3 linked regions of the Homo sapiens genome follow. The protein of the gene in region 1 purifies or fractionates together with the protein of each later gene. This does not show direct contact. Each region holds a gene or a part of one and is shown in the gene's direction. Other genes may lie near its edges. The genes, in order: SLC43A2, ERGIC1 and EPB41L1.

Region 1 (3,652 bases):
TTGCCCTAGGCCTGGATTTCGGTAGAATGAGCAAGAGTTAGCCTTGAAGTCCTGTTCAGGTGGGCCCCCTCTTGCCCTGTACCCAGAATGAGCTGATGTGAGATGCCGAGAGTGGCTTCGTTGGGAAGAGAGCCCGGACCTTGCTTCCCGTTGGCCTTCCAGGATGCTAACTGCTCGGGCCGAACATCCTGTGGGAAGATAATCCCCTGCTTGTACTGAGAAATTCAGAAGCAGGAGGCCGGGCGCGGTGGCTCACGCCTGTAGTCCCAGCACTTTGGGAGGCCGAGGCGGGCGGATCACTTGAGATCAGCCTGGCCAACATGGTGAAACCCCGTCTCTACTAAAAATACAAAAATTAGCCAGGCATGGTGGCGGGCATCTCTAATCTCGCGACTTGGGAGGCTGAGGCAGGAGAATCACTTGAACCAGGGAGGCGGAGGTTGCAACGAGCCGAGCTCACACCACTGCGCTCCAGCCTGGGGAACAAGAGCAAAACCCCATCTCAAAACAAAGAAAAGAAATTCAGAAGCAGGAATCCTGGGCCAGCTTCATCCTCAGACCGAAGAGAACTGTAGAATTCTGATTGACATCTTCCAAAAACCTACCCTCTCCAAACCAAAAGCAGTTTTTGCTGACATCTGGTCTTTCTGGAATGCTGATATTTTTATTTATAAAATGATGCTATTATCCCCAAATAGATTCTTATTTTTAACAGGCTTTCTCCCTTTGAGGGCTGCCTGAGGCTCATAACTTTGTTCTCTGGCATCTCAGTGTTACCCTGAAAAGACAAGAAGGCTCCTGGGCTCTGCCAGGAGCAGAGAGATAGGGAGGGTTGCCAGCCGGAAAGTCAGACAACTGCTTGTATTCTGCATTACCTCCCTCCTTGGCCCCATCAGCCTCAGTCCATGAAGGAGAAACCTTCAGTGAGCGGTCATTGCCCCTGAACTAATGCCCCTGTGAGTCACACAGGAAGGGGCGCAGGTGAAGAAGGGGCCTCATGGGGCCTAGTTCTCTGTCCCCTCCTCCTCCCCTTCCCTGGTGCATCCTCCCCACTGAGGTTTCTCTGCTTCTTATCTCTCAGCTGCCCAACATGTTCGGCGACCTTCGGTCCACGTTTATTGCCTTGATGATTGGGTCCTACGCCTCCTCGGCAGTCACCTTTCCAGGAATCAAGGTGAGCACGTGTATTTTGCACTGGTGTCTGTGCAGAGGCCTGCTCCAGGCTCCTTCCACCCTCTCTGAAGAGGGAGGCAATTGTGGGCACCCGGGGTGGCCCCTCTCCACCACCCCCACCCGGGCAGGATGCACCTGGGCATCACAGGGGCGACAAATGAAAACCGCGGGGCCTCAGGGGACGGGAATCACGCATGTGGCTGCAGGATCTGCCGCAGGTGCCTTTGCATTTCGGGGCTGGGGCAGGGGAAGGGCGGTGGGTGAGTCTGTTTCCAGTTGTGAGTCTTGCCCCCGTCTCCTCCGTCATCCTGGTCTCCCGCTGCTCCCCTGCTCCCCAACCCCCAGCCTGCTGTTATTGTACCGTTACTCCCCGCCAGCCAAAGCACTGCTCTTGGCCAAGTGTTTCAGCTGTTTCCCTCCTAGGCAGGATTTTGAGCCTGTGGAAGTCACACAGGGTCAGGACGAAGCAAACACCTCACAGTCCATCAGCCCAAGTTCCCCAGACCCTGTGGGTCTGCCAGGGCCCCGTAGGGGCTTCTCCCACCTCTGACCCTCACACTAAGTAAAAGCCCCTTTCCTCGGTGGTGTGTGTGGGAATGCTGTTGGCGAGGAGAGGGGGACACGGTGTGGGCTGGCCACCTGGGCATTGAAGTGGTGGGAGCTGGGACTCTGGGGCCAGCCATCCTATGGACTTGCAGAGATTCTCATGCCCCTGGACTGGGGAGCATCCCGAAAGTTCTTCCTCCTCCTTTTTTTGGGGGGGAACAGGGTCTTGCTCTGTCGCCCAGGTTGGAGTGCAGCAGCACGATCTCGGCTCACTGCAACCTCCACCTCCCAGGTTCAAGTGATTCTCCTGCCTCAGCCTCCCAAGGAGCTAGGATTACAGGTGCCCGCCACCATGCCCGGCTAATTTTTGTATTTTTAGTAGAGATGGGGTTTCACCATGTTGGTCAGGCTGGCCTGGAACTCCTGACCTCATGATCCGCCCACTTTGGCCTCCCAAAGTGCTGGGATTACAGGCGTGAGCCACCATGCCTGGCTTCCTTGAGCATTTCTTTGGCCTCTGCCATGTGAGCTCTCAGAGGCACTGGGGAAGCATCAGTGGACGGGGCTGGCCGGTTCCCGCCTTCAGGGAGCTCCGCTAATACCAGACAAGCCGACGGACCAGGAGCACCGTCCCCTCTGCTGGGCCGATCACTATGAGCCTGCAAGACGTGCCGTGGTCATGGCGGGGCGGTCAGGAAGGCCTCCGAGTCGGGGGGCTAATCACACGCCAGGCCCAGATGACCAGCAGGGCAGGCACGGTGGGAGGACTGGAAGGCGGGTGCCTGATGCCCCAACGCCCAGGCTGGCAGGGCTGTGCCTCTTTGCGCGGCTCAGCACAGGGACAGCAGGGGTGGCCAGACGCCCCTGCCTGCTGCGGCTCTGGCCTCCCCGGGCTAACTCTGCCCCCTCCCCCCCCCACCCCGTCCCCGCGGTGCCTGTCAGCTCATCTATGATGCTGGTGTCTCCTTCATCGTCGTCCTCGTGGTCTGGGCCGGCTGCTCCGGGCTGGTTTTCCTCAACTGCTTCTTTAACTGGCCCCTTGAGCCCTTCCCGGGGCCGGAGGACATGGACTACTCGTAAGTAGAGGTGCCCCCGTCCCGCCTGCCCCCAGCCCCCGCCCCCCAGCCGGGGTCCCGGGCAGCACCCACAGACACTCTCCCGGGGCCCCAGGGTGAAGATCAAGTTCAGCTGGCTGGGCTTTGACCACAAGATCACAGGGAAGCAGTTCTACAAGCAGGTGACCACGGTGGGCCGGCGCCTGAGTGTGGGCAGCTCCATGAGGAGTGCCAAGGAGCAGGTGGCGCTGCAGGAGGGCCACAAGCTGTGCCTGTCCACCGTCGACCTGGAGGTGAAGTGCCAGCCGGATGCCGCAGGTACCCGCCTGAGACCGCAGCCGGGCGACGGGCAGGGAGTGCTCTGTGGGTATCGGCTCACCCCATTCCCACCTCACCCCAAAAGGGGAGGCGGCCCCGCCCGCCCTGTTCTGCAGAGGCGCTCAGGAAGGCCTGGGGGAGGGAAAGGGATTTGCCTGATTTCACCCAAGAGGTGACCCCACCGCAGCGCCAACCCCGTTACCCTCACCAGGCCCGTCCCGAGGGCCCCCTCCTGGCCTCCAGCGTGGAGGGATCTGCGTGTCCCCCCGGTGGTGGGGACAGTGTGCCCCGGCCCTGAGCCCCGCACCCTCTCCCTGCAGTGGCCCCCTCCTTCATGCACAGCGTGTTCAGCCCCATCCTGCTGCTCAGCCTGGTCACCATGTGCGTCACGCAGCTGCGGCTCATCTTCTACATGGGGGCTATGAACAACATCCTCAAGTTCCTGGTCAGCGGCGACCAGAAGACAGGTAGGTGCCCCGGGCAGCCTCGGTCGCTGTCACTCCCCGGCCTGAGCCCAGCCCACTGGCCACCGGCCAGAATGTGTTAAGCTGAGCCGGGCC
Region 2 (3,652 bases), on another chromosome or scaffold:
GAGTTCTGTGTTTTCCTGTCTGTGAAATGGGAATGAGGAGAGTACTCACCGAAGTAGAACAGTTGAGGGATGAGGCAGTGCGGAAAGCATTTAGACACAGAGTAAGCGCCTCATCCATTTTGGCCGCCATATTTATTTGTGTCATTTTATTTAAGCACCCATCATCTCCTAACACATTATATAATTCACTTAATTATCATGCTGCTTCTCTCTCCCTCCCATTAGTACATGAGCTCCTGAGGGCAAGAAGTTTTTATCAGGCTTCTTCAAGGTTGCATCTCCAGCACCTAGAACTGTGCTTGAGCCAAACTCGATCCTTGGAGATGCCTCTTGAAATCTGTCAAGGAAGCCATAGACATGACGTGACTTGATATGCCAGCTTCAGTGGGCAGATTTTCAGCCATTAGTGGAGAAATCTCCCCTCTCCACCCTTGAATCTGCCGTTCCTAGGTTGTTTTTGGGGTTAAGGAAGGAGGCAGAACGCAGGGGAGGGAGGCTGAGCTTTCAATGATTTATTGTGTTTGCTTTGCTCTTGTTAAATTGTTTCACTAATGGCTGGCTGTTGCAGTTGTGGAACTAGCCTTGTGACCCACATCCGTGTGTGTTGTTTCGAGTTCCGGCTGGCCTGGGGCCAGTAGCACCTGCTGCCTTCTGCACACCAGCCCAGGGTGGGTGAGGAGGGAAGATAACAGCATCCGGAAGCCCTGTGCCCAGGCCCAGTGGTGCCTGAGCACTGCCTTCCGGGAGGTGCAGGTGGCTGCTGTCCCACAGTGACAGCCCCCATGTTGAAAACCCAAGGCCTCGGGGGTGCCGCTGCACTGGCACTGACCAGATGTGCTCTGGGACCATTGACTTCCCCTCTCGGAGCCTCCATTTCTTCATTTTAAGGAGGGGATGTAAACTTCGCTGCCTCACCTGGTAGAGTAGATGTAGGGGCAAGTGTGATCAATGCACACTTGCAGGATCAATGTGCAATGCAACTTGCAATGCAGGATGAGGCCCATAATTTGTGGGGCCCAGTGCAAAATGAAAATGTGGAGTCCCTTGTTGAAAAAGTATTAAGAATTTCAGGACGGCAGCAGCAGCGCATTCAGCCAAGCATGGACCCCCCTCTGAGTGTGTGACCCTGTGTGCCTGCACAGGTCATGCGGCCCTGATGGGGCTGGCCCTGCTGCAGGGCCTTGGTTTGGCCTCTACCATTTTTCACTCTGGCCTTCTGAGTGGTCTTTCTCCCTCCAGGATACCCCAGACCTCCTCAGGACTCCCTAGTGAGCTTTCCAAAGTTGATCTGATATTTTCATGTCCTGATTTCAACCTTCAAATGGGTCTCATTGCTCTAAGGATCCAGTGTGAATTCCTTTTTAAAAAAAAATTATATAGAGATGGGGTCTTGCTATGTTGGCCAGGTTGTTCTTGAACTCCTGGCCTCAAGTCATCCTCCTTCCTTGGCCTCCCAAAGTGCTAAGATCACAGGCATGAGCCACTGCACCTGGCCCAGTCTTAATTCCTTAGGCCCCAATAGGGAATGGGACCCTGGTAGCCCCATCAGTTCCTACACCAAGCTAAGCCTCAGCCACCACAGGGACCTCTGAGCACAGAGTTAACATTCAGCAGAGAGTAGCTAACATGAATGCCTGTATTTCTACCCTGCTGTTTCTTCCAGAAAGAATTCCAAGGAAGCTGACAAGAACATATACTTTACAGCAAGTTTTAAAAAATATAAAATGAGCGCTGTGGCTCATGCCTGTAATCCCAGCACTTTGGGAGGCTGAGGTGGGCGGATTACCTGAGGTCAGGAGTTTGAGACCAGCCTGGCCAACATGGTGAAACCCCGTCTCTAATAAAAATACAAAAATCAGCCGGGCTTGATGGTACATACCTGTAATCCCAGCTCCTCGGGAGGCTGAGGCAGGAGAATTGCTTGAGCCCGGGAGACGGAGGTTGCAGTGAACTGAGATCTTGCCACTGTACTCCAGCCTGGCCAACAGAGCGAGACTCTGTCTCAAAAAAAAAAAAAAAAAAAAGTATATATATATGGGCCAGGTGTGGTAGCTCACACCTGTAATCCCAGTACTTTGGGAGGCCAAAGTGGGAGGATTGCTTGAGGATTGCAGGAGTTCAAGACCAAGCTGGTCAACATAGCAAGACCCCAGACCCCATCTCTATGGGGAAAAAAAAATGGCCAGGTGTGGTGATGTGCGTCTGTGGTCCCAGCTTCTTGGGAGGCTGAGGTGGAAGGATCTCTTGAGCCCAGGAGGTGGAGGCTTCAGTGAGCCATGTTCATGCCATTGCATTCCACACTGGGTAACAGAGCAAGACCCTATCTCAAAACACACACACACATACACACACACACACATACACACACATACACATACACATATAGCCTTAAAAATCAGGGCAAAAAGAAAATAAAAATTAGACCAGAGAGAAAATTATGTGAAAAGGCCAGTATTTCGGGTTTATTGAACATTTGCTAGTGCCAGGCACTGTTGTAAGGATCTTACTGTATCAGCCCCTTTAATTCTCCACAGTCCTACAAGGGAGGTGCTGTTGTTACCCCACTTTACAGGTGAGCCAGTGGAGGTGCCACAGAGTTCGGAAACACGGTCGTTCCCGTTCCTGGAGCTGGGATTGGAACACTGCCATTTGGCACCAGAGCTCCACTGTGTCCTGTAGGCTCATCTCTAAAGCTTTCTCTTTTCCATTCACTAAATTCAGAGAGAACTGAGAACTCTTCTAATTGGATTCATTGGGTTTCTCTTCACTAATCCTCACCCAACAGTGCTCATTAAGAAGCTTAAAGCCATCAACTTTTTTCCCCCTAGCCTCATGTAGCGTGATACCTGATTCTGAAATGGTCTTTAAAGACCCTCACACCAGCTAATGGCATCACCCTCGAGGGGCTCAGTTTTCCCACGCTGACCAGTGGGGGTTTTCCAGCTTAGAGCATCATGTTTACCTGCTCGCGGGGACATGGAATGAGATGGAATGTCCTCTCCTCCCAAGGCCGTTTGGATTCCTGACTGTGGTGCTGTAGTAGCAGGAGACAGGGCTTTAGCCAGCTGTGTCCTGGTTAAGTTACATTCCCCATCTGGTAATCCTTTCGTATTTTATTTGGAGTTACTCCTAGCCAGTTTTTGTCAGGCGTGGGAGAGACAGGCAGGGTGTGAAGAGGGTATTTGGGGTGAGGCTTACCCGGTACATCTAAATCAGTGAGCCTCAACCCTGGCTGTATATTAAAGTCTCTCATGTGATTCTAATGCACAGCCAAGACGGAGGAGAAGTGCTCTGAATTGGGAGAAGCAATAGCAAGCAGGGCTGAGAGCAGCAGGGGAGCCAGGTCGGGTGGCGGTGGAGAGCCTTGCCTCGGGAGGCTGGGGCGTGGAGTTCCCGTCCCACCCATCACTCCTGCATGACCTTCGGCAACTCTGTTACCCCACCAGTGAAGTGGACAGTAAGGGGCCGTAACTTTCTACTAATAACCTTGCTCTTCAAAGTGCAGTCCCAGATGCCAGCTTCAGCAGCACCTTGGAGCTTGTTGGAAGTGGAGAATCTCAGTGCCCACCTGGAATCTGAATTTGTATTTTAACAAGATCCCCAGGTGATTCATGTATTCATTAAAATGTATAAAGCCCTGGTCTGTATGATT
Region 3 (2,932 bases), on another chromosome or scaffold:
TGATGAGAGTACTGAGAAAGTCAGATCGTAATTCTCCACCACCAGCCTGGTGCCTGAGGCCCTGTCTCCATGAGGGTGTTTGTCTTACTGGTCTTCATCTTCTGTTCCTTCTGCAAATCCTCCAGAAACATCTGTCCCTGCTTCAGTTAACTCTGTCTTCCTTCTTAAAGTTCTTCCTTCTTGAAGTTCTTGCTATGAGCGTGGAAAGTCACTCATGTCACACAGAACCTTTTCCCTTCTCTCCCTGCAACCTTGCAGGTCAGACGTCTGGTTTCTGCTCCATCTTCTCCCACTGGCCCACCTCCTTCAGAGAGGACCTGTCTCCCAAACACCACCAGCAAGAGGGCAGCACTTGCCTAGCTTCCTAACCTTCCAAAATTTAATGGGAAAAAATTGACCTGTTCCAAAACAGGAACCTTGGGTTTTAGTCTTGGTTTTGCCAACTTACTAAGCCTGAAGCCTCTGGGCCTCGGTTTTCCTATGTGTCAAATGAGCCAAGAAAGATCCATTTTCTGTGATTCCGTTAGCACTCGACTGCATGCAAGTAGCAGAAATGATGTTTCATCCATTAAATGGTTTTGAGTAGTTGCTATGTGCCAGGCACAGTGTTGAACACTGGAAAGACAAGAGTTAAAAGATAGCCCTTACCCTCAAGGAGATCAGAGTAGTGTGTGGTTAAATTAACAACAGCAACAATCATCATAATAAGAACAGCCAGTATTTATTCAGCACTTACTATATGCTGGGCCCTTGCTTCAGTTCCTCCCTATAATGGGAGGCAGAACCTATTTTACGGAGGAAGCAATTGAGGCTTAAAGAAGTTAAGAAACTTGCCAGGCACTGTGGCGTGCACCTGTAATCCCAGCTACTTGGGAGGCTGAGGCAGAAGGATCACTTGCAGCCAGGAATTCAAGGCTGTAATGTGCATTGATTGTGCCTGTGAATAGCTATTGCACTCCAGCCTGAGCAACATAGTAAGACTCGTCTGTTAAAAACTGTTTAAAGTAAAGGAAGTTAAGAAACTCACCCAAGATTACAGAGCTAGCAGGCCCATAGAGTGGGATTTGAACTCAGGGAGTCTGATTTCAGAGCCTGCTCCTTTAAACACTGAGTTTTGGAGCCAAACCTGGAATCCAGACTTCATTTCTTTATTTAAACACTGCTGTCTGTGGTTTAATCTCCAGGACACAGCAAGCCCACGGACAACAGAAAGGAAAACCAAATGAAAAAAGAACATCTGCAATCGTGACTAAACATTTCTTAGAGCTGACAAGATAGGAAGAAAAAGTAAAATGATGATGATCTTAGCTTCTCGGTGTTAAAGGACATTTTAACACATTGTCAGGCCAAAGTAAAAGATTACCACCTCCCTGGAAACAAGCGAGCAAACACACATGGGCTCTGGAATCCAACAGATGTGGGTTCGGTTCTCTGCTGCCACACACAAGCTGCGTGGCCTTGGAGTGCAATAGCTACTCACAGGCATGATGATTACACATTACAGCCTTGAGTTTCTCACCTCAAGAGATCCTTCCACCTCAGCCTCCCAAGTAGCTGGGATTACAGGTGCAAGTCACTCTACCTTGCTGAGTCACAATAAAGGGCATATGGTAAAGGGTAGCAAAAACAACCTCTTGCCATGTATTTTAAAACAAGTGACAGAAGTTACTAATTTTTCTTGTCCTCTTCCTTCCTTTCCCCCCACTCCCCACCCCCCATTCTACCCCATGCCTCTGGCTTCCAGGAATCCTGACCTCTGTGAAGAGATCCTGGCATTTCTGGTCCAACCCAAGCCAGAGAACCATTAAGAAGGGGCCTTCATTCTGGATTCTCCGACGCAACACTGACGTCCCAGCTGCGACGTACTGTCACTGATGAGAGACTGGGAAGGGAAAAGCATATATATATAGATATATAGAGATATAGATATATATACAGGAAACACCGCATCCTTGCACTGCTGCTGGGGCTGGCAGAGCAGTTGGCTGACAGCAACAACCGACATCTGAACACCTACATTTCCTTTGCAGACAAATTGAAGAACTGGTGGGATTTTTTTCAAGAAAAAAAATTATATAATAACTATAATCCCTTGCTCACCCCTTTCCCCCGCCAAATAAGAAACGCAAGCCAGACCACGATGATTGTAGAAGTCCCTCCCGCCCTGGTTCTGCACGTTACAGTTAGCAGACGAGCAATTCCATTTGTTCTTCTCCAGCATCTCTAAGGCCCACTTGAATGCAAAGGAAAACACTTGCACAGCAAAGCAAGAGAAGTCACAGCAGCAAGACACGCACAGTCAACCATTTTCCGAGAAAAAAAGAAAATTCCCCACTTGGAAAGAAAGAGGAGGAACACTGGATTCTTACTTTCTGGATCTTGACACTGGGCTGCAAAACCTACCTTCCTCTCTCCCGCCTCCCCTCACCCTCAACTCTCAATGTCTTGCTGTCATTTTCTGTCTCGGCTCCCTCCTCCCCCTTCCCCCTTCCCCCACCCCACACCCTTCACCCTCTGTGTCCTGGTCCTTCTGAGGGCCACTGCAGATGACTCTCCTTTGAAATGAGAAAAAGAAAAGAAAGCAAGAACAGAAAACGAAGCCACAGGAAGGGAAGTAGACATTGTATGCTTATGGTTTCTCATTATGAAGGTGCAGCTTGTAGGAGGTTTGTACGGATGTGCTTTGAAGTTATGTATATTACATATAACAGGAAAAAATATTAAAATAAACAGTGCTGGTAAGTATGAAGCTGACATTCTAAAATTATAATTATCTGACTGTGATTGATGTATCCTGAGGTTCCTAGATCTCACTGAACTGGCCCAGCTAAGGAGACCTGGACTCTGGGTGTGGGTTGGCTCACAGTAGGGGCTGACGGGTTCAGTGTAGTAATACTGTGTGTGGTGTTTGTAATTGGTTGATTGGTGGGGA

Evidence for each region.
Region 2: the proteins of SLC43A2 (region 1) and ERGIC1 purify together in Homo sapiens (affinity purification with mass spectrometry; one large-scale study listed by BioGRID and IntAct). This does not show direct contact.
Region 3: the proteins of SLC43A2 (region 1) and EPB41L1 purify together in Homo sapiens (affinity purification with mass spectrometry; one large-scale study listed by BioGRID and IntAct). This does not show direct contact.

Annotation. Positions count from the first base shown.
Region 1 is NC_000017.11:1,590,709-1,594,360, reverse strand, and holds part of SLC43A2 (large neutral amino acids transporter small subunit 4), read left to right. Parts: intron 1-1,081; coding exon 1,082-1,174; intron 1,175-2,661; coding exon 2,662-2,795; intron 2,796-2,889; coding exon 2,890-3,092; intron 3,093-3,412; coding exon 3,413-3,559; intron 3,560-3,652.
Region 2 is NC_000005.10:172,837,237-172,840,888, forward strand, and holds part of ERGIC1 (endoplasmic reticulum-Golgi intermediate compartment protein 1), read left to right. Parts: intron 1-113; exon of another isoform or gene 114-337; intron 338-2,962; exon of another isoform or gene 2,963-3,634; intron 3,635-3,652. UniProt on the Homo sapiens protein: Possible role in transport between endoplasmic reticulum and Golgi.
Region 3 is NC_000020.11:36,227,588-36,230,519, forward strand, and holds part of EPB41L1 (band 4.1-like protein 1), read left to right. Parts: intron 1-1,744; coding exon 1,745-1,753; 3' UTR 1,754-2,932. UniProt on the Homo sapiens protein: May function to confer stability and plasticity to neuronal membrane via multiple interactions, including the spectrin-actin-based cytoskeleton, integral membrane channels and membrane-associated guanylate kinases.